Linked DNA regions of Homo sapiens: all the other regions are linked to region 2. Evidence: fine-mapped expression QTL. A gene starts in region 2. Each other region holds a variant in brackets. All regions are shown on one strand. Distances are between the middles of the regions.

Region 1 (6,506 bases), 200 kb after region 2:
GTAGAAAGAACACAAGATGAATCAATAAAAAATAATAACTCCAACAACTTTTCAGGACATAAGTTGTACAATAAGATATAAATAAAAACAACACAACAGTAAAAAGTAGGGAGACAAAGTTAAAGTGTAGAGTTTCTGTTAGCTTTCTTTTTGTTTGTTTTTTTGTTTATTTATGCAAAGTGTTAAGTTGTTACCATATTAAAATAATGGGCTATGAGATAGTATTTGCAAGTCTCATGGTAACCTCAAACCAAAAAACATACAATGGATACACAAAAAATAAAAAGAAAGAAGTTAAATCATACCACCAGAGAAAATCACCTTCATTAAAAGGAAGACAGGAAGGAAAAAAAGGGAAGAAAGAGAAGACCACAAAACAACCAAAAAACAAGTAACTTATCAATAATAGCATTTAATGTAAATGGACTAAACTCTCGTCAGAAGACATAGAATGGCTGGATTGATAGAAAAACAAGACCCATTGATTCCGTTGCCTACAAGAAATACGTTTTACCTGTAAAGACACATACAGGCTGAAAATAAAGGGATGGAAACAGATATTCCATACCAATGGAAACCAAAAAACAGCAGAAGTAGCTATACTTATATGAGAAAAAAAATAGATTTCAAAATAAAAACTGTAAGAAGAGACAAAGAAGGTCACTATATAATGATAAAAGAGTCAATTCAACAAGAGGATATAACAATTATAAATACATATTCACCCAACACTGTAGCACCCAGATATATAAAGCAATTATTATTAGAGTTAAAGAGACAGACCCCAATACAATAAGAGCTGGACACCTTAACACTCCACTTTCAGAATTGGACCGTTCTTCCAGACAGAAAATCAACAAAGCAATTTCAGACTTAATATGCACTATAGGCCAAATGGACCTGATAAATATTTACAGAAAATTTCATCCAATGGCTGCAGAATATACATTCTTTTTCTCAGCACATGAATCATTTTCAAGGATAGATCATATGTTAAGTCACAAAACAAGTCTTAAAACTTTCAAAAAATTGAAATAATATCAAACATCTTCTTTGACCACAATGGCATAAAACTAGTAATCAATAACTAGAGGAATTTTGGAAACTATACAAATACTTGGAAATTTAACAATATGCTCCTGAATGACCAGTGAGTCAATGAAGACATTAAAAAGGAAATTTAAAAATTTTTTTAAACAAATGATAATGAAAACATAACATACCAAAACCTATGGGATACAGTGAAAGCAATAATAAGAGGGAAGTATATAGTTTAAGACCTAGCTAGAGCAATCAGACAAGAGAATAAGTGCCTACATCAAAAAAGAGGAAAAACTTCAAATAAACAACCTAGCGATGCATCTTAAAGAACCAGAAGGCCAGGCGTGGTGGCTCACGCGTGTAATCCCAGCACTTTGGGAAGCCGAGGCAGGTGGATCACTGGAGCCCATGAGTTCAAGAGCAGCCGGGGCAACATGACAAAACCCTAACCCTACTAAAGACACAACAAGTATCTGGGTGTGGTGGCGTGCACCTGTAATCCCAGCTGCTCGGTGGGCTGAGGCAGGAGAATTGCTTGTACCCAGGAGCTGGAAGTTGCAGTGAGCCAAGATTGTGCCACTGCACTCTGGCCTGGGAGACAGAGCAAGACTTCAGAAAAAAAACGAACTAGAAAAACAAGGGCAAACCAAACCCCAAATTAGAAGAAAAGAAATAATGAAGATCAGAGCAGAAATAAATGAAATTTACATGAAGAAAACAACACAAAAGATCAATGAAACAAAAAGTTGGTTTTTTGAAAAGTTAAATAAAATGAACAAACCGTTAGCCAGAATATTAATAAGAAAAATGGAGAGAGGCCCTAAACAAATAAATCAGAGATGAGAAAGAAGACATTACAACTCATAACACATAAATTCAAAGGATCATTAGTGGCTACTATGAGCAACTATATCCCAATAAATTGGAAAATCCAGAGGAAATGGATGAATTCCTAGATACATACAACCTACCAAGACTGAACCATAAATAAATCCAAAACCTGAACAGACCAATAACAAGTTATGAGATTGAAGCTGTAAGTAAGTCTTCCAGCAAAGAAAAAACCCAAGACCCAATGGCTTCACTGCTGAATTCTACCAAACATTTAAAGGAGATCTAAAATCAATACTGCTCAAACGATTCTGAAAAATAGAGGAGGAGAGAATACTTCTGAATTCATTCTGCAAGACTGAAATTACACCAATACAAAACCAAACAAATAAATACAAAAAAGAAAACTACATGTCAATATCAGTGATATGAGAAAATCCTCATTAAAATACTAGCAAACTGAATTCAACCCCACGTTGAAAATATCATTCATCATGACCAAGTGGGATTTATCCCAGGGATGCAAGGATGGTTCAACATATGCAAATCAATCTATGAAATTTATGCAATATATCATATTTTATGTCAACATTATATATCAATAACCTATGAAGGATAAAAACCATATGATCATTTCAATTGATGCTGAGAAAGCATTTGATAAAATTCAACATCTTTTTATGATAAAAACCCACAAAAAGCTGGGTATAGAAGGACCATACTTCAACAAAATAGAAGCCATATGTGACACACTCACAGCTAGTATCATACTGAATTGGGGAAAAACTGAAAGCCTTTCCTTTAAGATCTGGAACATGACAAGGATGCCCACTGTTACCACTGTTATTCAACATAGTATTGGAAGACCTAGCTAGAGCAATCAGACAAGAGAAAGATATAATAGGCATCTATATTGGAAAGGAGGAAATCAAATTATCCTTCTTTGCAGATGATATGATCTTTTATTTGGAAAAATGTAAAGACTCCACCAAAAAATTATTAAAACTGATAAACCAATTCAGTTAAATTGCAGGATACAAAATCAACATACAAAAATCCGTAGCATTTCTATATGAAAACAGTGAACAATCTGAAAAAGAAATCAAGAAAGTAATCCCATTTATGATAGCTACAAATAAAATTAAATACCTAGAAATTAACCAAAAAAGTGACAGATCTCTCTAATGAAAACTTTAAAACATTGATGAAGGAAACTGAAGACGACACACAAAAAAATAGAAAGATATTCCAAGTTCA[G/T]GGATTGGAAGAATCAATATTGTTAAAACGTCCATACTACCCAAAGCAGTCTACAGATTTAATGTAATCTCTATCAAAATACCAATGTCATTCTTAAGAGAAATAAAGAAAATAATCCTAAAATTTATATTGAATCACAAAAGACCCAAAACAGCTAAAGCTATTCTTAGCAAAAAGAACAAAACTGGAGGAATCACATAACCTGACTTCAAATTACACTGCAGAGCTATAGTAACCAAACAGCATAGTACTGGCATAAAAACAGACACATAGACTAATGGAACATAATAAAGAACCCAGAAACAAATCCACACACCTACAGTGAACTCATTTTCAACAAAGTTTCCAAGAACACTCACTGGGAGAAAGGACAATATCTTCAATAAATGGAAAAAGATATCCATGTGCAGAAGAATGAAACTTGATCTGTATTGCTTGCTTTATACAAAAATCAATTCAAAATGGATTAAAGACTTAAATATAAGACCTCAAACTATGAAACAACAACAAAAACACATTGGGGAAACTCTCCAGGACATTGGAGTGGACAATGACTTCTTCAATAATACCCCACAGGTGCACTCAACCAAAGCAAAAATGGACAAATGGATCACATCAAGTTAATAAGCTTCTGCATAGCAAAGTAGACAATCAACAAAATGAAGAAACAACCCACAGAAGTGGAGAAAATATTTGCACCACCCATCTGACAAAGGATTAATAACTAGAATATCTAAGGATCTCAAACAATTCAATAGAAAAGAAATTTCATAATCTGATTAAAAATGAACAAAAGATCTGAGTAGACATTTCTCAAAAAAAGACATAGAAATGGCAAGCAGGTATATGCATAGGTCTCAATATCACTGATATCAGAGAAAGGCAAATCAAAATTATGGGTTATCTCACCCTAGTAAAATAGCTTTTATCCAAAAGACAAGCAATAACAAAAGCTGGTGAGGATGTGGAGAAAAGGGAATCCTACATTGTTGATGGGAATGTAAATTAGTACAACTGCTACAGAGAACAGTTTGGAGGTTCTTCAAAAAACTAAAAGTTGTGCTAACATATGATTAAGCAATACCACTCCTAGGTACATACACCCCAAAAAGGAAATCAGCATATTGAAGAGATATCTGCAGTCCTGTGTTTATTGCAGCACTATTCACAATAGACAAGACTTGAAGCAACCTAATTGTCTATCAACAAATGAACAAATAAAGAAAATGTGGTACATATACACAACAGAATACTATTCAGCCATAAACAAGAATGAGATCCTGTCATTTGCAATTACATGGATGGAACTGGAGGTCATTATGTTAAGTGAAGTAAGCCAGGCATGGAAAGACAAACATCATACATTTTCACTTACCTGTGGGACCTAAAAATTAGAACAATTGAACTCATGGAAATAAAGAATAGAAGGACAGTTACCAGAGGCTGAGAAGGGTAGTGGGGATGGTGGGCAGGAAGTAGAGATGATTGATGGGCACAAAAAATTGTTCAGAAAAATAAATAAGACCTGGTGTTTGCTAGAACAACAGAGTGACTATAGTAAAAATACTTTAATTGTACATTTAAAAATCACTAGAAAAGTATAATTGGATTGTTTGAAATTCAGAGGATGGGTGCTTGAGGTGATGGTTATGCCATTTTACCTCATGTGGTTATTATGCGTTGCATGCATGTATCAAAGCATCCTATAAATATGTACACCTACTATATATCCACAACAACTAAAAATTTTAGAATAACAACACATGATTTCTTTATAAATTGAATACCAAGAGAAACAAACACATATACTATTTGGCACAAATAGATGAGAATGGTAAAGCTATGGATATTTTAGTATAATGATGTTATATAGATGGCAGCATTCAGAAGACACAAATATAATCATATTTAATCAAATGCAACTCACCAAAAAAGATGTGAGAATTTGTTTAGTTAACACAAACAATAAAAAATTGCTTGACATTAATTTGTTATAATAGCTTTGTTGTATATTTAAAAATTGACATCATAAAATTCAAAAAGCAAATAAGAAAATTATATGCTATAAAACTCTATGTAGTAAGAAGTATTAAAATAGAGATCAGATTTTGAGTATGAATGAGGAAAATATTACTGGCTTTATTTGTAGCTTCATGTTCATTATAACTTGATGTACAATATAATTTTTTAAGTCATACTTAGTACTTTTTCAGTTTTATATGTCTACTGCTTTGGAAGTTATACATTCTAGTTCTATTTTTTATTGACTTAAAAGTTATGTGTGCATGCATTACCTAAAATCTAATAACATTTAATATCTCTGTTATTCCTAAATGACTAAGGGCTTCTTGGGCATATTAAATTACAATCACCAACCCCTTTCAGCCTTTCATACCATTATTTTAGTATTTTTTTGTTGTTTCTTTAAGCACAGTATTAGGCATTGCTATCATTTTTTAAAAACAATTAATGTTAATTTAAGTTTACCTACAAGTTCAACCATTTATTTGCACATTATTTCATCCTACATCTCAGACATCCATTTTTCTTTCAAAATTTCTTTAGTTAAGGTCTACTGGTAATTAAATATAAATTTTTGGTTGCCTGAAAATGGATGCATTTCAACTTCATTGTTGAATAAAAATGTACCTGGGAATACAGTTCATGTCAACGGTTATATTTCTTTTACATCCCTCAAGTTGAAATTCACTACTTTCTAGTGTCCCCAAATATTGTTTAAATTCTCAGTCTTATTTACAATCTGTCTTTATATCCTGTCTGAAGATCTTTACTTTGCAGTTTTCCTATGATTTGCTCCTGAATCTTCATTTTCCACCAGTTCTGTAAGATTCTCTATCCCTTTAAATATTATCTCTTCTTCTCAATTACTTTCTTTGGGACTCCAGTTAAACATATATTAGACATGTTCATTCTATCCACTACTTAGCTACTCTTATATTCTTCATCTCTTTTTCTCACAACTTTGCATTCTGAGTAATTTCTCCATATCTTCTGCTTTATTAATTATCTTATCACTAGTCAATCTTTCATATTACTCTAAATTTCCATCTGATATTATATTCTTTCTCCCAAAGAATATGCTTTGCTATTTTAAAAATACTACTTTGATCATGATTTCTTTAGTTGAAAATGTCTTATTTTCCTTCTTTCTTGGAATAAGGTTTGCATGAGACCATAATTTGATTTTGACCATTTTTTTTTTAGCTGTTTGAATATAACCTTCCCTTGTTTTCTGGCTTTTCTTATTTCTTAAGAAGTTTGTCAACAGTTAGTCAAACAGGTGCTCCTTCAATAGTAATCTGATATTGTTTCCTATCCATTTTTGAAATTTTTTCTTTGTATCTTTAGTTTTTAAA
Region 2 (6,506 bases):
CTTCTCATATAGACATAAATCGGTATCAGAAGGTATATACGATACACAGTGTGTGCATATTTATGTATCTATCCCCTTCCTTTATCTACCTCTAAGCTAGGAGAGGCATCAGGCTGAAGAAGTCAAAGTATAACTACTAAAATGAGATAATATAGAAGAGAAAATATTTTTAAAGAATTAAAAATATAAAGCTATATAAATGCAAAAATATAACTAATGCTTAAGAATTATTAGACTAGTTGGCGGAAAAATTTCTTCTGAAGAGGGAGTAGAGTAATGCTATTGTTATTTTAAACCTCACCAAAAAAAAGTGAACTATACATAATCTCCTATACCAAGCAAAACACTGCAAAAGCTACAGGTGACCAGAATTATATAACGCCTTTTGAGAATGTACAAGCGTTTTCAGGTACATACATTTCATTAATTTCTAGAATGTTTTTAAGAGTTGCCAGACCAAGGCCCTGAAATTTTCAAATATAAAAATCCTATCTTGGAAGGCGGGGACTCTTACAGAGCTGGGGCCTAGTTTAGAATAGCATTATCTTAGATAAGAGCCCAGCCTCCCTCCAAGCCGTAACAGGAAATGCTTCATAAAGAAGTCTGCATCCTTAGTCCCAGACCTCCGCAGTTAGTATTTGGATTCTAGCCTTTATAAATGGACTTCTCAAAGGTGCATCCAACATCTGAGTATTCTGGCAGCAGTAACGTAAAAGGACTGACAAGGAAGGCTGCAGAGAGGTGTCAGACACGAAAACGCTTGAAGACATAAAAATGAGGAGTCTTAAGCACCTAAGAACTGCAATTCCCTATCTGAGCAGCAGGTAAGATTCTGGGGTATCAGATCACTGTATCCAGTTCCAGGTTCTCCACTGGCAGAGAGTGCAGTCTCTGACTTTGTCCTCTGAATGCAGGAACTTTATCGAAGCTAAAGTACCTGCTTTGGACACTTCTGGCACAGGTGTTGGGGTGACAGGAAACATCATCAATTCAGCTGCCAACTACAGCGGAAAAAAACTAGGGAATAATCCTCAGAAAATGGCACTGTTAATGGGTACAAAAAACACAGATAATAGGAATAAGCTCTAGTGTTCAGTAGCACAATAGCGTGACTATAGTTAACAATAATTTATTGTATATTTCAAAATAACTACAAAAATGAATTTGGAACAAAGAAATAAATGATAAATGTTTCAGGTAATGGATATTCCAATTACCCTGATTTGATCACTACACTGTATGCTTGAATCAAAATATCACGTCTCCTATAAATATGTACAACTATTATGTGCCCATAAAAACTAAAAACAAAAAAGAAAGAAAATGACACTTAAATATTAAAATACCTTTTATCCCCGAATCCCACATTTCAGTTTGGTCTTCTGAAAAAATGACTTATCAGTTTCTCAGCTAAAGAAATGATATCGACAGTGTACTACCTAAATTATACCTTATATTCTTTCCTTTCCAAAATATAAATTCGCCAGTGAACAATCTGATCCTAAAGAGGGCGGAAGATTAACCCGCCTAGCATGAGAGCACAGCTTAAAATAAATGCTGTTAAGTAGTCCTCAGGTAGAACAACTTTCCCAGCCAGCAGGCCCAGGAACTCAAGGTCTAGCTTAAGTTGGGTATTTGTATTCAAGAAGGAATTACAATCATGGAGTCAAATGACTTTTTCAATGCAGACGACAAAACGTAATCAAGTCAGTAGACACTTTACTAAGAGGAGGCTAAGCAAATGGTTATTTGCTTAAGGTTAGGGAACTCTTAAGCCCAAGGACCTGAGAGCCTGGGAAGGCGGGGGGGAATGGGTTTGACTCCCAAAGTTTGCGTTTCCGCAAGTGGTTAACACAACTCTAGGAACAAACCCTAAGACCAATACTCCCCACAATCTCATTTCCCCCCATTCTGCATCACCCATCACCCCAAAATAAAAACAGCTACTACAGCACAGCCCTTTGGTTACGCAGGAGGCTGGGACCTGATCCTGGCATAAAAAGCGGATGCGGGCGACCGAGGACCACACACGTGGGGGCGTTCGCGGGCGCTGAAACCAGCTACGAGGCCCACGCCCCCGCCGGGGACAGCTGGTGACCATCACCTTTGGACAGGGGCATTCCCCAGCCGGCCCCGGAACTTGCGAAAGACGCGCAGCCCTTCGGACTCAGCCACTCGCGCAGGGCCCGGGTCCCGGGCGGCTCGGGGCACCTGAGGAGCGCGGCGAAGGCGGGGACAGGGACGGGGACGGGGACGACTCGGGAACAGGGAAGCGCGCGGCCTCCCGCAGGACCCACCTGGATCTGCAACGGCACGAGGCGCACCTTGCAGCGCTCGCTCACCGCGAAGCCCTTGGGCAAGTCCACGTACTGGCCCCACTCCTCGGCGAACAGCTGCACCACGAATTTGCGGTGCATGTCGATCTGGTCGCCGTACAGGCTGAGGAACTTCTGGATGAGCAGCTCGTAGCCCGCCCCGTGTGGCACCGACGAGGGTCGCGCGAAGACTGAGAAACAGAAGAGCACCGGGACTGTGCCCGACGGCGCCCCCGCGCCCCCGGCGCCGCTGTTGGGGAGCGCAAGGACCGCCGGCTCCGCAGCCGCCATGTTCCCCCGAGCGTCTGCGAGCTCCGAGGCCGCCCAGTCGCACCCAGCCGGCTGCCGCGGCCCCGCCTCCCGGCGATGCCAGCCCGCCCGCCAGCTCGCGGAGGCGAAGGGGCGTGTCCTGACGACCGCTGCTCGCGCGCTCTCTTACCCGCCCCGGAGGGCGGGCCGCGGCGTAAGGGTGGGTGGTGGGGCCGGGGTGCGCGCGTGAGCCAGGGAGCGCCTGCGCTCGCCGGCCGGGTCCGCCCCCTCCAGCTTCCCGGGCCGCTGCGTTCCCGCAGTTCCCCGCTCGCGCCCTTTCTGCCGCGGTTCTGACTGCCGGCAGAACGCCTAGTGGTCTCGCAGACCCAAGACCCGCCTGGGCTGCCCGTTGTTCTTGCCCCGGTGCTGCAGCTCACACAAGGGTTTGTACCACCCTTCCCCTAACGCTGGCCCTCTTCGCGGCTTCGCTCGCCTTCGAATGAGCAGTGTTCTTGGCAGTCTAGGGTTGTGGTTGGGTACACAGAGCCGCCAGGACGAGTTACCTGTTGGCTCTGTGCAGAAGCATGCAGTCCTCCTCGAGATGGCAGTGGTATCTTACAACCAAAGGGACAGTCCGATAGATACCCTAAGAAGAGCAGCAGAATTTAATCCTTAGAGGGCCAGTCAAGGTTCAAGTTTTGTCTTTTTTCGGTCCCACAGAACACAATATCTCTAGGAATGGATTTGATATCTGGCCTCCCTTCATCTCAACCTATTTCTGGGAGGACTTGGATTTGGGAATATAAATACTATTAAAAGCAAAAATCTGAACTTTATATTGAAACTAAGGATATCTGTTTTTAAGTAAGTAAAAGGGATCACTTTCAAATAAAACAATCCTCTGCCTTCTGCACACTGTAAGGCGCTATAATTAACTGGAATTAGAAAGCATGCATTATGAACAGAATTTCCTTGGAATTGAGTCCTGCGAAGATAGGCATGGGCCTAAACATAAAATTAGATTTTAGGTATTAAAGCTGTCCTCTTCTAAGAAAATAACCTTTAAAGCAGGGTTTCCCAACTGACACTGTTGACTTCTGGAATGGACATTTCTCTTTCTTGGGGATGGGGCATCTTGTGCATTTGCAGGATATTTAGCAGCATCACCGGCTTCTACTCCCGCTAGATGCCTAGTGACCGCTCCTCCCTCTAGTTATGGCAATCAAAAATGTTTCCAGACATTGCCAAATATTCCCCAGAGGGCAAATATACCCCCTACTTGAGAACCACACTGCTTTAAAGTTATGAAAAGACCATCCTTTGGTGTTTCTTGCTCAATTGTACCGAAGCTACTAGAAATAGCCATTTTTTTCTGGTTCTCATCACACTTTGAGAGATCCCATTTAAAAGTGTTGTCTGAACCCGTCAGACCCAAAATGATATTTTTTTCCGGATACCACTCCATTGCAAGGTCTTCTATATGCAGATATGCTGATTTGTGCTAATAAGTGTACCCCCTCAAGACCTGATTACCAAAAGGTACCTACCTATTTTGGGTGGACTAATAAAAGTGTTCCTTCCACCCTGTAAAGCCTCCTAACACAGAGTAGGTTGGAGATTAGAGATTGGCCTAGACTTCAGACATCCTCAGCGAGGACCTTGGCATCTACACAGTCTTCTGCCGTGGCCCTCATGGCCGTGAGTCAACATACTTCATTTCCCTTTCATGTTTTTAAATTAGGTTTCTGACCCTTCAGTAAGGAAATCAACTTCCATATATATTGTGCTGTCTGAGATTGGTCCTTGACAACCTAGTTTAATGGTGCAATCATTGTGGTAATAGCATGTTAAATAACATTAATAAAATAGATATTTGATGGGCACATTTACCATTTATTGAATATCAACTGTGTATCAACCTCTGCATCACTGGGCTGCAAAAGGGAGGTGAATGCACATTTCAGTGATAAATTATTATCCTCAGAAATACAATTATTAAGATAATTTTTATAAATGTTACCAGAAAAAGTGAGTAAGACCCCATAAATGAATATTCAAATGACAAGTAGAAAATAACTGTTCTAATTGACAAGATCATATTATGGACCAAATGCCCAAAATTTTCTCATATAGGACTCTCAGTAGCTTTATTAGTTAATGTTAAATGCTTACTTTTAGAATCTAAATTCCAAGAAAATCAAGAAGGTATATTACACAGTATTGATTAATACATTAATATGCTACAGAAACAAACCCCAAAATCTCAATAGACTGATAAAACAAAGGCTTATTTCTCACCTTTCCCAGTTAACAGCAACATTTGACAAACCAATTACTCCCTTTATTTTGAACCATATTCACTTTGTCTTTGGGATACCACTCTCTCTTATTTCTCCTTCCACCTCACTTCAAGCTCGTTTCCTATGTTCCTCTCATTCCCCAAACCTCTATAAATACAAGTATACCAGAGCTCAGTCCTCACATCTATTATCCTAAGACTGTGGCTTTAAATATCACCCATATACCTTTGACTTCCAAATTTTTAACATCCAGGCCCTCACTCTGCACTCCATACTCATACACAAGTGCCTATTCGACATCTCCACTTGGATATTCAATAGATACCTCACATTTAAATGTACTAACAGAACTCTTAGTTTTCTTCTGTCCTCGAATATTTTCTCTCCCCTGTTGATATCTAGGCAAATGGCAACCCCGTTTTAGTAACTGAGTACAATAACCAGGGGTTTATCCTTTAATTTACTCCTCTTTCTGTCCTTGTCCAGTCTATCAGCAAGACCTGGTGGTCAGAACCAAATTCCTCTCATTCACACCAGTGCCACCACCTAAGACAAAACCACTGTCGTCTTCCATCTAACTGTAACTCATCATAAGTTGTGCCCAATATTTGACTTTTGTATCCCTATTTATCCATTTACCTCATTTACATAGACTTTTATACTCCATTTACCACACGGCTATTAGAGTGGCACTTTTTCAAAAACATAAATTTAGAGCGTGTCACTGCTGTGTTCAGAATCCTCCAGTATATAAAAATAGACCTCAAGACAATCTAGATGTTAGGATTAAGAGAAAAAGAACTTTAAAGAAGTTGTTACAAGTATATTCAAGGTCTTAAAAGAAAGGGTAGCCATAAGACTGAGCAGATAGGGAATACCAGCAGGGAGATGGAGATGACTGAAAACATAGCCAAATGTCACTTTTCAAGCTAAAAGTGCAATGTCTGGAGTGAAATGCTCACTGGGTAATCTAAACTTCAGATTATAGGTTCCAGAAGAAATGATTAGTGAAATTGCATGCAGAGTACTAGAAATTATCCAATGTGAAGAACAGGAAGAGATTGAAAAAAGTATGATGACAGTTTTAGTAACCTGGAGGGCAATATCAAATGATCTAATATGTAGTTGGAGTCCAAGAGGGAGAGATGAGACAAGAATGGAACAGAAAGAATATTGGAAGAAATAATAGCCAAAATAGCACTGTCTATTAAGTCTTCAGTGTGCTGATTTTTATCTCAGAGTCTGCTTTCCAGGGAAATCAACCTGTGACATTTGTTGCTAGGAAAGATGAAAGGAGGCCAATGTGGATGGATTTTGGAGCTGGGTCACCCACTGTTGGGCAGATAATGAATACCTAACCACTAATATCTGTGGAGCACAGATAGCCCCTGGCAGTTTTTTTAAACTTCCAGCAAGATGAACTAGAATCATATACTACTGGAAAGGAATGCCTTCACTGTAATTAAGAATTTGAAAAATATGGAGGAAATACTAATTATAAGAATAAAGGAATTGAATGACAGTTTCAAAGTTTGATTGATGCTCTAGAAAAAGACCAAAAAAAAGATAGTTGGCAACTAAAAGCTAAGTGTGAAGGCTGGAAGAACTTTTTGGCAGCATTGAGTCTCTCAGTTCCTGCAAT
Region 3 (6,506 bases), 170 kb after region 2:
GCTGCTATGAACAATCACTTAGAAATGTTTGTGTGGACATGTTTTTATTTTTCTTGGGTATATACCTAGGAGTAGAATTGCTAGATCATGTGGTAACTCTATGTTTAACGTTTTGAAGAAGCTCTAGGCTTTTCCTAACTGTTTTTCAAATTTTATATTCCCACCATCAGTGTATGAGGGCTCCACTTTCTCCAAATCCTCCCTAAAAATTTTTATTTTTGGTTTCTTTGACTATAGTCATTCTAGGAGGTGTGAAGTGGTATCTCATGGATTTCAATTTGCATTTCCCTGATAAATACCAGCATTAAACAAAAGGATGTTTGTATATATTCTTTGAAGAAATGTCTATTTGGAACATTTGCCCTTGTTTAAACTGGATTATTTGTCTTCTTAATTATGGAGTTGTAATTGTTCTTTATATAGTCTAGATACAAATCCCTTTTCAGATACATGCTTTGAACATTTTTTCTGTCATTCTATGGGTGTTCTTTCCACTTTCCTGATGGTGTAATTTGAGTATGAAATAGTTTGATTTTGATGATACCTATTTTTTCTTCATTTCTTGTATCTTTGGTGTCATCTCTAAGAAACCATTCCCACATCCATAGGTATAACAAAGATTTATACCTAAGTTTTTAAGAGTTTGATATACATGTTTTCTAAGAGTTTTATAGTTTAAGCTCTTATATTTAGGTCTCTGATCAATTTTGTGTTAATTTGTGTGTGTGTGTTGTAAGCTAAGTATCCAACTCAATTTTTTAATGTGAATATCCAGTTGACCTAGCACCATTTGTTGAAAACACTATTCTCTACCCATTGGATGGTCATGACACCCTTTTAAAAATTAATTTATTGTAAATGTGAGGGTTTATTTCTGGACTATTTCATTGATCTATATGTCTATTTTTAGACTAATACCATACTGTTTTGATTACTATAGATTTGAAGTAAATTTTAAAATCAGGAAGTGTGAGTCTTTCAGCTCCATTCTCTTTCAAGGTTGTTTGGGCCATTCTAGATCATCTGCATTTCCAAATTAAATTTAGGATCACATTGTCAATTTTGGCAAAGAAGTCATCCAGGACATTGGTAGGAACTGAATTAAATCTGTATCTCAATTTGGAGAATACTGTCATCTTAACAATGTTATCTTCCAATCCATTAACATAAAAAGTCTTATCATTTATTTAGGTATATTGTAATTTCTTTCCACAATATTCTGTAGTTTTTAGAGTATAAACTATATATTGCTTTTAAAAATTTATTTGTAAGAATTTTGTTCTTTTTGGTGCTATTATAAATGGAATTGTTTTCCTAATTTTATTTTTGTTCTGCTCATTTCTTGCAAAATATCTTATCCAGCTGTAGAAAACAAATAACATTTTATGAATGCATTTTTAACTAGGCTTTTACTGACTTAATTTTATGTTTCTGGGGTTGTATTTTTTCTTTCTACTTTTTCTATGAACATTTGAATAATCTTACTATATTTTATATAGACTTATTTAAATTATTTGGAGTCAAAGCTCAGTATAAATAATAAAATAATTAATCCAGGTACTGTATTGAACTGGTTTACAAATATACATAGAACTGAGAATATTTTGACCTTCTTCATGATCACATCACAAATTTTCCTCCACCTCCCACTTTTAAGTCATTTTTCCATTTTTATAAAGACAAAATAATTATAAATATAATCTGCTCCAGTATATATATCTGACACTAAATTACTAAGTAGCACATTTAAAAGCTTGTTTTCATTTTATAATTTACAGAAACAGGCTTGATAGTGTTTATTCCTTAAAACTGTTAATAGTTTGTTTATAGTAATTTTTAAGGTTTTTCCTCAAAAACAAACATAGTAAAATGAAAATAATCATTTGTAAGTAAAAGCGAGTATATTAACAATTTTTTCAATCATTCCAAACAATGTGTATTAGGATCACTTAAGAAATGGATTATTAATGTACACGGAAGAGTTTTGCTACCCTGAAATACACATTTGACTTTTTTTGCTTTTCCTTGAATTTTAAAAATTGAATGTCTTGAGGCATTCTGAATTAAACAAGAGTAATTGCTATGTACGAATTATTTGCCTAAAATGGTTACTTACTTCTTTGCAAATTCACATGGAATTTACTGAGCACAAATTAATTAAGTAATACATCTCATTTCATGTCTCGTGTTCCTGATATTTTATTCCCATTTAGAAAGAACTTAGGTGATAAAGAAATTTTCCTCTGGTAAAATCTAGAATGAGTACCCAAAATACACAATGACCATATCCCTATACATTGGGGGAGTTCTGCCATTAACTGTGTAACTAGCCAAAGGTGAAATTGAAGGACAGAGACACAAGGCTGGGCCTGAGCTACTGGACAATGGACCTCACTCTTCAGGCAGACCAGTGGTTCTCAATTAGGGAGATTTTGCCCTGACGCATATTTGGCAATCCCTGCACACATTCTTGATTGTCACAATTAAGGTGCCAAGTGGTAGAGTGGCAGGGCTTGGGAAGAGTAATTGAGAGGGAGGTACACTACTAGCATCTAGTGGGTAGAGACCAGGCATGTTGCTAAGCATGCTACAATACACAGGACAGTGCCCCACAACAAAGAATTATTCTGCCCCAAATATCAATAGTGCCCAAGTTGAGATTCTGATGCAGACAGAAAATAAACTGCTCTATCCAAATTCTCTGTTTTCTGCTTCTAATGAAAATCATTATCTATTGAATTCCAGGCAGCATGCCAGGGCTTTGACACTGAGTCATTTTCTCTTTTAACTTTATTTACATAATATCAGCTCACCTTTATGTTATTTATTCTAGTTAGGTGTTTTTCAGAATAATTACAATAATTTGCCCAAGTTTACACAACTAGAAAGTTACCAAGCCTGGATATGGACCCATATCCAGACTGACTCCTAAGTCTGTGCTTGTTTCATTGTATTCCACTGTCTCTTTCCTGGTTTATGACCACATTGTATGACTAATGGATTCACATGTTTGTGGATAGCACAGCTAAGAACATTGGAAATAAACATGGATTTAATGGTAATCGAATTAGTCATGGGAAATGGCTGTTACTCTCAAACAATTGCCCTTGAAAGTTTGTCATTTTAAGTTAGAAATCTAAGAGAATACATAAAAATATGAAGAATTAATACTTATTTCTTCAATTTTCTCTGCTAAATGGATTTGAATGACTCATGAATTTGTTTCTAAGAGTCATAAAACTGTGCTAAATTGACATATGCTTTTAGAACTTTTAGACATTTAAATAAAACATTTGTAAGACAGTT[G/A]ACACTTGAACAACATGGGTTTGAACTGTGCTGGTCCACTTTATACCTGGATTTTTTTCAACCATGCGCTCAGATGAAAATGCATTCTTTGCAGGATGCAAAACCTGCCTTATATAGAGGGTGTGATTTTTTTCCATAGATGGATTTCACGGGGCTGGCTGCAGGACTTGAGTATGTGTGAATTTTGGTATGTGTGGGGGTCCTAGAACCAATCCCCTGCTTATACTGAGAGACAGCTCTATATGATGATTCCATACCTAGGATATCTTTATTTCATCTCTGACTACCAAATTATAGATTTAGGCAAGATGATGCTCTACACAGATTGGACAGAATGATGCTCTACACAGAACTGATCTCAAAAAAAATTTTTTTTCCCATAAGTCTGACTATTCCTACATATCCAAAGTAATTTCTAAATTATACATGATAGCACATACACAAAAATTATTTAATTTGGTGTCATCTATTGCGTCATCTGCCACAATACTTCTTGTATATGAAAATATAAAAGCTGACATTTTTGTTCAGAAAAACTCACTTTTATTTATACCATGAACCCAAATCTGACTAGTTATAGGAAAATAAATACGCCTCACAAGCAGGGAAAAAGGTAAAAGCAGAAGGATGAGCCAGATATGAGAATATTTCTAGTTGTTTGTTAAAAGGGAGCTCAAATTAGAAAAACCAACCTTGAGAAGGAAATACAAGTGAAGTGGAAGTGGAAAGAGAAAAGCTCTTTCCAGCTGATGCTAAGCATATTTGAAACTGGGGGATACTACAGTTCCATTGCTATGCAACTGGCATTTTGTTAAAATAGAGGGCCATAAAAATAGAATTATGCTGTATTTCCATTTTGGCCAGTCAAATAGATGTTTGAACAATTGTTCTAAGCAAAGGCTTTTTACAACACACATGCAATATCTAATTCTATTATAATAGCTGCAAACATGCCTCCTTGCTAATTGTGAAAGAGTAGATTTTGGTCAGTTTTCCTGCATTGGCTACAGAGATAGTGTTGAAGAATGACACATCCTGTCTTAAGGCCATTTGACCTCATCTCTAAGATCCTCATTTCAAAGTTTAAGAGCAACTTTGAAACATACAAAAATTATGATATTCTGAGACAATCCTTAAATTGTCCTCCATTATCACCAAGGGACAGAATTCTCCACAGGAAAGTAAGTACAAGAAACAAAGTATTACGTTTACCATAGCCGGCTACACACGGGCTAAGTAAAAATTTATCCTGAGAAAGATTCATATTTTTTGTTCAATAGAATCATTGTAAATCTAATTTTAAGACCCCAAAAACATGTTTAAAAAGGCAGTACAATATTTGAGGCTCTATTTTATAAACAACCTAATGAAGTATATTTTAAATATAAGTTGAATATACTTAAAATAGAAGTATATCTTACTGTTTTTATCAAGCCCTCAACACAAACTGAGCTTCTAGTATTTTGGACTCACTAGTGTCATGTCATATGTAACATTTTCAGAAGGAAAGAGTGATCACCAAGTCAGCCTAGCACTGGAAAAGCTTAAGACTTGGAAGAAATGTCTCAACTAGTTTGGTTAAATTAAATTATTTGAGGTTAGTAGATCCACAGAGGAAAATATATTTGTCTTTATCTACACAAATGCCACTGGAGCTGGGAGACATCACTGTGTCCTCTGAGGTCAATGCTAATGTGCTTTCATGTAGACAGGCGGCCGGAGCCCTACCTGAGAAGATCCGTAAGCTTAATTCAGACTTCCTTCAGTGTTTTCCAAATAATCATAATTTTACCAAATCATATTTATGTCTTCAATTAGTTGGGTAGTCCATTCAACTTCTTGATATTCAATGTCAAGAAGAATGTACCATTTCTAGATGATTATGAATGGCATATCAAGGCCAAATTCTGTCTAAAATGCCTTTCTTTCCAGTACACCATTGTTTGGTGAAATAAACATTACTATATTATTACTGTGGCAATAATGACATAAACACAAAGCTAAAAAATACAGTTAAAACACTAATAATGCCAGATAGGTGAAAACAAAGCAAAAATAAAAGTGAAATATCTTCCTTTGTGGTAGGCTGCATGGTGACCACCAAAACAATATGCCCATTCCCCAATCCTGTTACTATATTTGGAAAAGCAAGTCTTTGCAACATAATTAAATTAAGGATTTTGAGATGAGGAGATCATCCTGGATTATCTAGGAGGAATCTAAATCCATTGACAAGTGTCTTTATTAGAGACACAGAGAGGAGAAGACAGATGCACAGAAGAAGCAAGGTGAGATGCAATAAATTAGAGTGATGTGCCCACTAGTCAAGTCATGAAAAGGACTCTTCCCTAGAGTCTCTGTGGGGAGTGAGGTCCTTCTAGCATCTTGATTTTGGACTCTGGCCATCAGGACTGTAAGATAATAAATTTCTATGGTTTTAAACCACCAAGTTTGTGAAAATGTTACAGTAGCCCTAATGCACTTTCCAAACCATAAACACACACACACACACACACACACACACACACACACACACACTTATTCATAATCAATATATTCATTTAGGGCTTCAGCTAAATAAATCTTGACCCCTTGAAATGTTCTGCAATGTTTGGCAAATATTCCTGAGTGCTCCAAGTTCCAGTCATCATTTTCCCCCAGAGGATAGTCTCATGAATAAGAGAATCATAGCGTAAAAGGACATTGAGAATTTCTATAACCCTTTATTTTGTTTACAGAATGCTTTCTACCTCCATGCCAGATGCCCTGTTAAAGCTGCATGCTTAGAGATGGCTCACTTTCTAAAGAAGATGCTTCCACTATGGTAAGTCTATCCCTAATGGATTATGTGAAGTTGCACTGAAGATTTGCAATATGTGAAACAACTGGTTTTCTGTCTATAACTACCTTATTAAATAACCTGGGATTGATTGTAATCCTACATTTTAGCACAATTTAAACGAGGAATATTGTCTATCAGTAAACACTGATGATGATTCCTTTAAGAATAATGAAAAAAATAAATCTCCGAAGTGTCAGTATGTATGTAAGTGTCTAGGTCATGGAATAAATAATGAGGACAATTATCATGTTTCTTCCCTTTGTATCCCTCAGGGGTAAAATTTTTTGCCTTTTTACATCCCAAGTGATTACAAGCAACCTATTTCTAAACTATTACAAGCAATCTATTCTTGGAAATG
Region 4 (6,506 bases), 190 kb after region 2:
ATCCATTTAGTAGTGTCTCTCTTCTTTTACCTTCTGGTCCTATTCTACACTGTTTTCCAATTTTTGATGCATTTCTTGGAGGGACAAAAATCTCATAATTCCTTAAAGATTTAAAGCTAATGCTTTTTTAGAGATTTCTTTCTGTAGGGCTACTATCTAGCTGCATAGAGTCAGACCAGTTCTTTCTTAGAGCAGATAACGTTGGCTTTTTCCATTTTTTCTTTTTGAGGCCGGCCTTTTTTTTTTTTTGCATATAGGGATAATCATAAGCCAAAGTCACAATGAGAACACCTACAATGTTCTGTGTGTGTATGTGCATTTGCATGCTTGTGTGTGTGTGCCTGACTTGTGTGAGAAGTCTCTATAGGATTTCATGTGTCTGGCAGACAAGTGGCTTTATCTCTTAACACAATACATTTGTTCTTTCAGCTCTGTAAGTCCAACTTTATTAATGCCACATTTTACAAATTATATCTTTATCCCTCTAAAGTTATAGAAGACTTTAATTTTAAGAATAAATAGAAGGTTCTTAAATAAAAACATTAACTAGTCCTAAAATTATGTGGTCGATTATTAAATAATATTACCACAGCTGAATGCTTTGGAAGATTAACAATGAAGGATATAAAATGTCATATGGCCGTGATATTTATGTATTCATCTTAAGTTGTTTTAATTTTCAGTGTTCCTACGATCATAAGCATGCCTGCACATACTCTTGAATGAGGACTGGATGGTAACCATCCCTGTGAATACCATTCCTTTGTTTTTGTGCTTGTTTGAGCATGATTATCTTCTCACTAAATTCTTGGCTCTGGAGCTAGGAGCTTTGGTTCATATTTTTACTCTATAGCAATTAGTACAGTGCCAGTGTTTTGCACATAGATGATGCTAATCACTATTTGTAGCTATATTAATAGCTAACAGCTATTGATTAATAGGTAAAATATTTATATTGCGATGAAACTCACCATTTATAATTAGTGTTGCCATCTTTGAGTAAGGATAAACAATTGATACTATTTGGTTTAACAGTAAGTGAACGGCTGTGCACCCATATTCTGATGTTAACCTGAGCCTCTTGTGACAATATGTGGTTTTTTAAAAGATGGCTGCAAATTCTTTGACACTTCTCCCATTGAAGCTGAGCACAATGTCCCTTCCCCTTGAATCTGGGCCAGTCTTTGACTGCTGTGATCAAGGAATATTACAGACGCGACACTGAGCTAGTTCTAGGTCTAGCCTAAAAAGGATTGACACATTTCACTTTAGTCTCTGGGAGCCCTGGGCCAGGGCAGTAAGAAATCTGACTAACCTGAGGAAGAGAATGTGTGGAGAAGCCCAGAGGCTACGTTGGAGGGGGAGGAAGAAAGGTAGCCCCAGGAAACAGGAATAAGAGTGAATCCATGTGGACCCTCCAAACCAGAGTGGCTGCCAACTGAATACTACCACGTGACCACAGTGGATGCCACATGCAGTGGAAAAACCTCTCAGCTGAGCACTGCCTGAATTCCCAACGCACAAAACCATGAGATATAATGAGTGAGTTGTTGTAAACCACTACTTTTTGGTATAGTTTCATACCTAGCAATCAATAACCAGAACACTCTACATCTCGGTTTGCCCAGAACTGTACCAGTTTCTGCCAGTTACCTAAGACACCCTGTCATGATTTACATTTGTTCCAGATTCTTCATTTTTTACAAAATATTATTAAATACTTGTGTTAAAATAAGCTAAGGTGGGTTTGGTAGTTTCTGTTAGTCTTATTTAGAAAAGTGTGAGAATTATGGGGAATGAATACTTTCAACCTGAAACCTAATTTAAATTTAAAGACAGGTAACATAACCCCTTCTCTTTCCCTGGCACCCTCAGCCATATAAAATCTAACATTTCCCTTTCCAGGTCGGCATGCAGGGTGTTATGTTTCTGGTACATAAGTGGTGAGAGGAAGCCATCTCCTCTTGGTCTGGGTGGTGGTGGAGGGCGGAGCATTATACACTGTCTTGGTCCTATGTTGGTTTATAAAATACACAAATCTGCCAATCACCAGTCCCACATAAAACTATGCTCATAATAGATGGTGGTGAGGGGCATCTGGGGTAAAACACAGGAATGTATAGGTTAAGTATATGACAAATGTGTAGGAAATAGAACCAGAGCTGTTGTTTTATAAAATGAAGAGAGGAAGTAGCTTGTACTCTTAATATAGTGCTATTGTCATTATTACATCATATAACTCTACAATATTGATTTATTTATTGTTTCTCAATTTGTGAAATTTCACAACAAATTTTCAGCAGCAATGAGCTAAAGATGAAAGTGAATATTTCATGATAATTAAATATTGAATTTTTATTTTCCAAGAAACTAGATGACAAAAAGTAATTTGCACAAAATGTTTGTCATTTCCTATCCACCATGAGATCTCTACTGTATCACTAATATATGAAAACCAGAAGACACAGATCATCTAAAGAAGCATCAGCCATCTACCTCAAAAATTTATTATTTTGAGACTGTGCCAGAAAAAAAAATTTGTGTGTGCAGTCATAGAAAATGTGTCTACATATCAACCTGTGAAGCATAACTTTCATGTACATCAAAAGACAATTTTTTAAATTAAATACATTCAGTTTCAATTCCCAGGTTTCTTGTGAACATA[A/T]GAAAATGAAGCAATAGGTTTTAATGCATCCACTGTTAGCAAAAGAAAAACACTGTAAGCAGTTAATTAATGCTGTTTCTTTATCAGTATCATTAAGTGCTTCAAATAGAAATCAGTTAAACTCATATCAATAATCATTCAAATATTTTTCATCTAATTATTGGAATCAAAGAGAAGTTTTTAGTTCACTTCGCAAAAGTAAAACAGCTGACAATGTAGATGCTATTGTAAAATTCGTTGAAAAATTTAAAAATAAAAATATGATTTGGTAATAAAAATATGAAGAGAAATTTAGAATAAACACAGCTTCATGATAAAATAATAATCTTAAAAATAAAAGGACAATTCAGCTGGAATTGGTCATGATGAACACATAATTCAAAACCAAGTTCAAACAAGTTTCACAATTCTACTGACTGAAATGGAATATGTTAATTGTCCAAATTTACAAATTACAAATATTATTACACATATAATTGGATAAACTAATCTAAAAATCTTTGCAAGTAATCTAATGCTTAATATTTTACAAATCATTTCAGCCTTGCTGCAGATACTTTATTAATTGAATATTAATTGTAGATTAGATATATTTGAGCCTTGGAAGAACTACCTTGTAAATCAACCTTAAATTTCTATGATGTCATTGAATATTTCTGTAAGTTAATTCTTTAAAGTTTAGAAGAAATTTTCTTTAAAATAAATTGGAAACATTTAAAGTGTTCCACAAATTGAGCACCAAAAATGTTTGAAGAATTGACGTAATGCATCACCTGAAAACATTGAAACAATAAAAATCATCTTCACAGAAGCTAAAGAGGAACTGAACAAAATAGATAATGTGAGCTTAAAGAATGTACAAGATTGGCCAGGCACAGTGGCTCATGCCTGTAATCCCAGCACTTTGGGAGGCTGAGGCGGGCAGATCACAAGGTCAAGTGATCCAGACCATCCTGGCCAGCATGGTGAAACCCCATCTCTACTAAATATACAAAAATTAGCCTGGAGTGGTAGCACATGCCTGTAGTCCCAGGTACTTGGGAGGCTGAGGCAGGACAATCGCTTGAACCCGGGAGGCTGAGGTTGCAGTGAGCCAAGATCATGCCACTGCACTCCAGCCTGGTGACAGAGCAAGACTCCATCTCAAAAAAAAAAAAAAAAAAAAAAGAATGTACAAGATTACAAGATTTAAGTTTGTCATTCTACAACTGAAAATTACAACATCTCAATCTGCAGGAAGAATCTTTAATGTAGCTCCTATTTTTAATAAATTTAAATTCTATACTGGATTAAAATAAAATTAAAAAGGGCCATAGTTTGCCAAATCTGGCAAAATATTGAAAAGAAGCATACATAGGATTTTTAAATGAATTTTTGGAGCAATATTTGTCAAAGATGGTTTTCTGAATTGAGTCAAAATAACTCCTAAAATATTAAGCTGAAAAATTTCACAGTTTAAATAAAAACTAATTTAAATGGAGAAAGTCTTCCATTTAGTAGAATTTGCTCTGAACTTATTAAGCATGTCAGCTTTCATAGGCAGAATGCTTCATCAAGTAAAACTATCATAATCTACAAACAGATCAGGCAAATTCAGCATCATAAAATATAATTTTCAAGAAGATTGCAGATAATTTTATGAAAAATCAATAAGAACATTGCATTGAAAAATTATTCTCTATAAATTAACAATGACAAGGTATTAAAAGCAGAAATAGCTATAAACTGATTAAAGTATATAAAATATATGTATCACAGAATCAATTATTTTGCTTATGTTATTCTAAATTTTCAGCTAATCAATAGTTTTGTTTTAATGTAAATAAACATAGTCTATCTATGAAAATAAATTTTAAGTAGGATAATTTTTATAGTTATATCAAAAATATAAAACCAATTTACTATCCTATAAGTATTTTCAAAATGTATAACATTTTGATGATTTTAGTGCCCAAATTTGTTCTCAAAAGTATCCCAATTCGGGGTATAAATTATTTGGTTACTTTACTTATTTCTATTCTGATTTATTGTTTTTAGACACTTTACTTTGCTCATCACATAACCTCCTGCCATCATTGGCGGATTATTTTTCTTTCTTCACGCCACAGAAAAAGTCCATTTTCTTATATTCTTTTCCAGTCTAACATTCCTCTTCATTTTTCTATGTACCCAACTTTCTCGTCCCTGAACACATTTTTTCCCTTTCTGATGTCTAAGACATTGCTAATCCACTTACCTGACCTTTTGAATGTTTCTTTACTAAAACAGCCTGCAGCAATCTTCTTCATCCTTCAACATCTAGCTCAAATATTTTCTCCTCCCAGATTCCCTAAGCCACAATTAATCTCATCTCTTTTATTCTTTCCTAAGAGCTTTACTTAAACATTTGTTGGAGCATATATTTGCTTTCCATAGCAGTTAACTACATGCCCAGCTTTCTTCCTCTAAATCATTGTGTTTTTAAAACACCATATTTTCTGGTTTATTTCTGCATTTCTTCCCTTCCAGACCCTCCCTACTGTGGTACAGTGGATTAAGCAGAGTGGTGCTCTATAGTTTTTTCAACTAATTACAATCTTCTATAAATATTACTGACTTATCTAACTCTCTGTACACATGCAATCCTTACTAGTTTTATGTATTTAATGCATTAAATCTTATACCCTTTTCACAATGTGCCTTAATTGAGCGTTCTAATCCAAGCTCTTAACTATTCGCTTTCAAAAATGGCCTTCTAAGTTTTTTCTCTCAAATGGATACATTTTCCCGTTTCCTTTACCATCTCTTAGTTTTGCCCCAAAGTCTATGTAGCCTTTCACATTATAATTCTAATGCTTCTGACAAAAGATGACAATTTCTTCTCAATTTTTAACCCTCAATATTTCTCTGCACAAATGATAACACATGGAAAGGGGCAGAGCAAGGTGACAAAATAGAAAGCTGCACCGGGTGTACCCCAACAGGAACACCAAATGTAACAACTATCTACACACAAAAAGCACCTTCATAAGAATCAAAAATCAGGTGGTACTCACGGTCCCTGGTTTTAACTTCATATTACTGAAAGAGTCACTGAAAAGGGCAGGAAAGACAGCCTTGAATCAGCAATACTACCTCTCCCACCATCCTCCAGCAGCGGCAGCATGGCACAGAGAATCTGAGTACTTGGAGAGGGAGAGCACAGCAATTGTGAGACTGTTTACATTGAACTCAGTGCTGCTCTGTCATAGGGGAAACAGAACTGGGCTGTACATAGCTGATACATGCCCACAGAGGGAGCATTTAGACTGGCCATTGTCAGAGGGGAATTACCATCCCAGCGGTCAGAACATGAGTTCCAGAAAGCCTCACCACTGCAGGCTAGAGTGCTGTATATAAACTTGAAAGGCAGTCTAGGCCACAAGGACTAAAACTCCTAGGCAAGTTCTAGTACTGAGCTGGTCTCAGAGCCAGTGGACTAGAGGGCACATGACCTACTGAGACAACCGCTGGGGTGGCTAAGAGCGTGCTTGTGCCATCCCTTCCCCAACACCAGGTTGCACAGGTCACAGCTCCAAAAGAGACCCCCTCCTTCTGTTTTAGAAGAGGAGAGAGAAGGGCAAAGAGGACTTTGTCTTACATCTCGGATACCAGCTCAGCCATAGTATGATAGGGCACCAGGCAAAGTTGAGAGGCACCCATTCCAGGCCTTAGCTCCTGGACAACATTTCTAAATACACCTTGGGCCAGAATGGAACCTGCTGCCTTGAAGGGAAGGGTCCAGTCATGGCAAGACACATCACTTGCTGAATAAAGAGCCCTTTGGCCTTGAATAACCGGCAGTGATGCACAGGAGGTACAC
Region 5 (6,506 bases), 31 kb before region 2:
TGATCTCTTGGGCTCTGTGAAAGTACTGTATATGTGGATACATCCTGTCATCCTTATTTTCTGAAAGAGTCCCTAGATGATTTTGTTGTGCAGAAGCCTTAAAAACCACAGAGAGGAAGACTACCTATTTTAAAACTAGGGCAGAAAAACCCCTTAACTCCAGCTTCAAGAGTGCTACCTGAAGACTTAATTAGAATAAATAATCAGAAAACATTCACGGCCAGATATAAGAGCTACCATAGCTTTGGTAGCAGGTACAACTCTCCCAGTGACTTTTTCTAATATGAATTATCAGATGACTATATAGTAAAAAGATTTATTGGGTGATGACAAGTTCATGTTACTGCAAAATGGGAAAAAATTGAACTAAGGCAATTAGTTGTTTTCAACCCTGGTGGCAGATTAGACTCATGTTGGTACGATTTTTAAAAACATTAATATCCAGGACTTACCATAGATCAATTAAATCAGAATCTCCTTGGCTAGACCCAGTAATGGTACATTTAAACTCTCTGGTGATTTTAATATGTAGCTATGGTTAATAATCACTGTCCAAAGGCTTAAAAGCGAGGTTCCATGAGTCACTTGATAATTATTAGGCAATGCTTCCTAAACATTTACCTTCATAGGAACCACCTGGGAATTTTGTTTAACTACAGGTCCCATCTCAGGAGTACTGAAATTGGGCTTAAGATTCTGCATTTGCCACAGGCATGATGATGCTGGTGTCATTTTGAGGTGCACACTGAGTAGCAAGGTCTGAGAGCGCTGTTTTTCAAACTTGACTTCACACTGGAATCACCTGGGGAGTTTTAAAAATAGATCAACAATATCTAGGTCCTACCTATAGAGATTCTGATTTCATTGGCAGGGAACATGACCTGGGTTTTGGATTTTTAAAAGCTCTTCAGCTGATTCTAATAGGTAGCAAATCTTGAGACCACTGCCTGAGAGTGCTTACATAGATTGAAATAGTGGTCAGACGTGGTCCCTCATGCCTGTAATCCCAGCACTTTGGGAGGCTGAAGCGGGTGGATCACCTGAGGTCAGGAGTTTGAGACCAGCCTGGCCAACATGGTGAAATCCCATTTCTACTAAAAATAAAAAAATCAGCCGGCCATGTTGGCAGACGCCTGTAATCCCAGCTACTTGGGAAGCTGAGGCACGAGAATTGCTTGAACCCGAGAAGGAGGAGCCAAGATTGCACCACTGTACTCCAGCCTGGGCAATGGAGCAAGACTCTGTCTCAAAAAAAAAAAAAAAAAAAAAAAAAGTCCAGGTGCGTTGGCTCACGCCTGTAATCCCAGCACTTTGGGAGGCTGAGGCAGGCGGATCACGACTTCAGGAGATCAAGACCATCCTGGCTAACATGGTGAAACCCTGTCTCTACTAAAAATACAAAAAATTTGCCGGGCGTAGTGGCGGGCGCCTGTAGTCCCAGCCGCTCCGGAGGCCGAGGCAGGAAAGTGGTGTGAACCCAGGAGGCGGAGCTTGCAGTGAGCTGAGATCGCGCCACTGTACTCCAGCCTGGGCAGCACAGGGAGACAAGGAAGGAAGGAAGGGAGGAAGGGAAGGAAGGAAGGAAGTAGGAAGGAAGGAGCAAAGATTCCTAAACTATGAATGAGGAAGAATGAGAAGAGTACCACTTGCAGTTGATGAGCTGCACCTCAGACTGGTCTCATGGCCTACAGACCAACATCTAAAAGTCAGGATTGTCATTTTCTTTAGAAGATTTGGAGTCTCTGTAACCACTGGGTCTGCATTTTCCTTTGGCAGCAACCAGGTGGCGCTGAGTAGAACTTGCCTGTTTAATATGTACATGCTTACTTTCCAGTGTGCCAGGCCCCACCTGTCTCATTTCATTTGTTTGGATTATCTGCCTTGCACCGTGGCCAATTGAGTTTGAGAGCTCTGGGTTAAGCAATGCCTACTGCACATTGACTCCAGGTCACTTGGCCTGACTAGAAACTCCCCAGCATAGTTATCTTTAATCAAGAGTGACTGTACATAAATCATTACCCTTCAACAGAAATTTTAGACATTGCCCTGGGACATGTATTAACAAGCCATCCTTCTTCATGGCTGATACTCAGTCGTTCTTAAGGCCACACAGCTAGTAGCAGAGCCCATAAAACAGTTCACATATGGCAACTCCTAGCCGGGTACTCTAGATACTTAACTTCTGTGTTCTGAACTATCTGAAAAAGTTCTGAGAATTAAATTAGATAACATAAGTCAAGCACTAGTCAAAGTGCCTGGCTCATAGTAAAGTGTTTGATCAATGCCAAGCTGCTTTTATTACCCATCTTGTATGCTCTTCACCTGTGCATAGGAGCTGCATAAACCGTGTATGTAGAACAGTTGTTTTTAGATAATTAGACTGTAAGCTCCTTCAAGAGATGATCAACTTGAAGGAAGATTTCCTATCCTGTTAAAGAAAAGGCCAGGAAATACTTTACACATTCAACTGATGAACCAAAACCAAAACCGAAAGAAAAAAAAAAAAA[AG/G]CTAAAGTGAAAAGGCTCTGGTCTGAAAAGCCCTAATCTATCTGAGAAGAATTTGTCATCTGACTTTCCGTAATTGTGTCCAGTTCCTCATCTTTGCACTAACCACCCTAGGTGGCCTTTATTTTATCTCTCTCATTAGACTTAGTTCCTTCAGAAACAGTAGCTCTCTCTTATCCAGACTGTCTCCAGCAGAGGGCTTCCCTTATGTAGGTAATCAATAATGCAGTACTGAAAGGATAAACAAATGAATCCATATACTCATTCTAGAGAACTCTTGGTAGCTAAAGTTTGCCTGCATTATGTTTTTTTGTGTACTAAAGTCCTTTAAAACTTCTGCCTCTACAGGCTATCGGTGACACAGCATCTTGTGCTGTTGGACAATTTTAATATAAATAAATCCCTATGCACCTGGAATTAAATATTTCTACATTCCAGTTAGCCAAAATAAGGCTTATTGGTGTGGAATCCAAATTTTATCAATAATGATAGCAGGCTTGATTTTTCCAGAACCATGCTTTGCGGTTTTGCAACTTAGTGTGCACTGAAATCATTTAACGTCCTCCCTTCCCAAGTATCTTTTTAAAATATCTTTATTGGATCTTTCAAGAGAGTAAATGTTTTCAACAGGTAAAGAGGAGATCTTGAACCTATTTTGAGAAGTGTTGACCAATCAAACTGATCTAAACATAGTACTATTTAGCAAATCCATATTTTCACAGAAATTATTTCAATATCAAAATAAAAATCTATAAAATATGCTTCAGAGAATAAGCTTTTCATTCATGAAAAATAAATTATTTCTAACATTTAAAAAATAAACATTCTAAAATAATTTTTAAAATGCTCACAACATTCTCATATCTTGTCCAGTCACTTGATTTGTTTTTTATTGAAAAGAAAATGAGGTAACATTTCTTAGTCATGCACTTACAATTGTGTTCACATTTTCTATATTAGTTCTTAAAATTATAAATGGTATCCTTCACTGAACAATTACAGTGATGAATTTTCTCTTCCAAAAATCCATTTAACACTTGTAGGCGATATTGTATTTATATTACTTGGTTATGTGAAAATTCTCTGTGGCTCAAGTTTTAGCCCCAAGCAAGCTGCAGGTTTTATTTTAAAGGAAGGTTTACAGAAGAGTATGACATTAATACTTATTCTTGAGATGAAAGGGTAGACATTTTTTGTCATTTCATGCAACTCTATTTTCTCTGTGAGAATGCTTAGAGATATCTCAGACAGACCTCTGGAAGGCTGCTAGCAAGAGCTACAAGAACCAGAACCCTGTCACAGACTCTGCCCTTTCCGCCACAGTACACTGCATCTGTCTGTTGGGAGACACTTCCCCTTGGGCTTCTTGTGGTCTTACCTATCTGGCTGGTGTGCCAAGGCTTCAAGGCCCTGAACACTTTTATCCAGGGCATTTTTATTTATGTTTATGTAGCTGATAACCTGGAGAGATGAAGTAACAGCTCCTTTTGGACAAAGAGCAGGCTTGCTTACTGCTTGCTACGAAAGCTCAGTATAAATCCACTGCATGAATGGCATCTGTCTGGCACGTACTCCCTCACCCCCATGGGACTTGGGGGGCAAGGGGAATCGATGCAAATATGCTAATGTTGATGCTGCTTGCTGTGCCATGGGTAACACAGTCCTGTTTCTGATCCTGAAATCTCATGTCTAGTGCCAGCATCCATGAAACAGTAATAGGCTAATTGATCAGCTTGTAAGAAGAGTAAAATCAAATCCAAGGCCTGAAACTGTCTGATTTTGGCTTGAAAATTCATGTTTAGAGCTCATTATCATAGCAGCTGATTTGATTATAAATACTCAAGACATAACAGATTGGTCAGTATGAAAACAGGGGCCCATATATATGTTCCCAATTCTCTGAATTCTAATAAACTCATACTAATTTACATCACAATCATTTATGTCACTGACGAATTTATATTTTACTAACCTTAATGCTAATTAACATACTCAGATACTTAGAAGAGTTAAAGATTTTTACTTTTAGATAAGTATGGAGGTATTTTCTCAGCAAAAATAAAATATGCAGAAAGTAATTTCTCAAAGTCAATGAGTATTCCCTGTAGATAAAATAAGCTATTTATCTCTGAAAGATTTGAATACATGGGTTGAGTGAGTCGACGAAAATATTTCTAAGAACATTGCATTTTTGAATGCAAATCTAAAGCAAATTAATGAAAGCTTAAAGGAAATTTTAAAAGAGCAAGATAGTTGGCATTCAGTGGAACTTCTATATTTCTTAATGAGCTCTCTAAAGAAAGAATTTAATGTAAAATCGAAGTCTTGAAAAAAACAAGTTATGTATAGCATATCTGAGATTATAGATGGTTGTCTACATATATCAAAAAGAAACTTAGAAATAAAAAGCTCCCAATATGCCACCTATGCTTCCTGCATCATCATGACTTTCTCAGAGGTTTCCCTAGTGCCTGGCAAGGTGTCTGGCTCACAGGATGGGAAAGAGTATAATACAACTGTTACAGGCACAGTTACTAAATTCTAGACTAAAATCTCAAGTTAAAATTTAAGCCTCTCCACTTCCAACCAAATGGATGATCTTGGGCTACTTATTTACTCTGTTCTTTAGCTAGATCGTAGGTTTATAAGGATTATTGAGTTAACAGATATAAAGCATTTAGGTACATGGCACATAGTAAATATCTAGTGAATAGTTCCTAATATGATGGGCACTCAAATGTTGAAATGAATTTTATTAAGTCAAAAAATCTGAAGCATAGAATTTAGAACTGCAATGAATCTTAGATATGATGAGTCTAATCTCTTTATCTTATAGATAAGAAATTTGCCCCAACTGTCAATGTTATTAAGAATGAGAGCGGGTCTGCCATTTCAATGCTTTCCATCATACAGGGCATCACATAACCACTGGCTCTTTCTCCAGCATAAAGAGGGAAATCTCCCATTTTTCTTATGTACTTTGCCAACTCCCTTCAGCAACCCCAACCATTTTTAAATTTGAAAAGGTATGTGTATATGTGTATATATATATATACAGCCATGCACTGCGTAATGACATTTCAGCCAACAAATATACCACATATATGACGATGGTCCCATAAGATCATAATGGGGCTCCTCTATACAGGTGTACCTTATCTTTTACCATATTTTTACTGTGCCTTTTCCATGTTTACATATGTTTAGATATATAAATATTTGCCATTGTGTTATATTTGCCTACAGTATTCAGTACAATAATATGCTGTACAGGTTTGTTGCCTAGAAGCCACAACACAGGCTAGGTGTGCAGTAGGGTACACTATCTTGTTTTGTGTTAAGTACACACTATAATGTTAGCACAATGACCAAGAATGAGATCATTTAATCATTCATTTCTCAGAATGTATCCCTGTCATTAGGTGTCATGACTGTATACATGTGTGTATGCAATGTTTGATGTAAACCATGCTGTCTACCTACAGAAATAAATTGCTGAATCCAATATTGACATCATGAGACACAGGTAAGTAAAACACATGTAAGTTTTGCTTGGCTGTGTGTGTCTTACTTACCTGTGTCTTATGATAAAGCACTTACTTATTGGCATACCAACAATAAAACCAAAGACATGCTAAAATTCGGGTGGTGACTAACAATTTATTCTTGAATTATTCATTCATGCTTCATTTATTCTTTCTAGAGTGTTCATTTCTTGCAAAAATACGAACATTTCAACATTATAATTTATAAAGCATTCCATATTTTTAGTTGGGGCTGCCAAACAGGCTATTTTAAAAGCACAATATGAATTTTCCAGAAGCCCAATTTAAAGCTACGTGTAATCAACATACATTAACAATGAGTGCCTATGTATTAACTATAGGTTCTGTGACAAATCACCTCTCATTTCTTGCATCTACTGTCTGAAGTGGAGGAATGATTTAACAAGGAAGCAGCTGCAAGAACAATGAACAAATCTGAATTCAAGTGACTTTTAG

Direction of the effects. Positions count from the first base shown, and alleles are read on the strand shown. Sizes are in standard deviations (SD) of each study's normalised expression. Not every link is listed here.
As copies of AG replace G in region 5, the expression in monocytes after interferon gamma of the gene that starts at base 2,624 in region 2 goes down (small effect, 0.38 SD a copy in Fairfax 2014).

What was found. PIP is the estimated chance that this variant, and not a neighbour inherited with it, causes the effect.
Region 1: its variant is fine-mapped to the expression of ISOC1 in whole blood (INTERVAL, PIP 0.98).
Region 3: its variant is fine-mapped to the expression of ISOC1 in whole blood (INTERVAL, PIP above 0.99).
Region 4: its variant is fine-mapped to the expression of ISOC1 in whole blood (TOPMed, PIP above 0.99).
Region 5: its variant is fine-mapped to the expression of ISOC1 in monocytes after interferon gamma (Fairfax 2014, PIP 0.95).

Annotation. Positions count from the first base shown.
Region 1 is chr5:128,887,776-128,894,281 of GRCh38, reverse strand. All of the region lies in intron 6 of LOC105379168 (a long non-coding RNA gene), which reads right to left. Among named protein-coding and RNA genes, the nearest start is that of SLC27A6, 74 kb to the left of the region's middle. The variant G/T (reference allele first, on the strand shown) is at 3,130.
Region 2 is chr5:129,090,867-129,097,372 of GRCh38, reverse strand. It overlaps ISOC1 (isochorismatase domain containing 1), which reads right to left and starts at 2,624. Exons shown (of 5, transcript NM_016048.2): 1 at 2,298-2,624. The coding sequence starts at 2,606. LOC124901060 (a long non-coding RNA gene) reads left to right here and starts at 594. Exons shown (of 2, transcript XR_007058926.1): 1 at 594-824; 2 at 1,974-4,447. RefSeq lists a silencer at 2,227-3,006.
Region 3 is chr5:128,917,017-128,923,522 of GRCh38, reverse strand. All of the region lies in intron 6 of LOC105379168 (a long non-coding RNA gene), which reads right to left. Among named protein-coding and RNA genes, the nearest start is that of SLC27A6, 45 kb to the left of the region's middle. The variant G/A (reference allele first, on the strand shown) is at 3,307.
Region 4 is chr5:128,896,315-128,902,820 of GRCh38, reverse strand. All of the region lies in intron 6 of LOC105379168 (a long non-coding RNA gene), which reads right to left. Among named protein-coding and RNA genes, the nearest start is that of SLC27A6, 66 kb to the left of the region's middle. The variant A/T (reference allele first, on the strand shown) is at 2,666.
Region 5 is chr5:129,122,124-129,128,629 of GRCh38, reverse strand. No RefSeq gene overlaps it. Among named protein-coding and RNA genes, the nearest start is that of MIR4633, 28 kb to the right of the region's middle. The variant AG/G (reference allele first, on the strand shown) is at 2,508.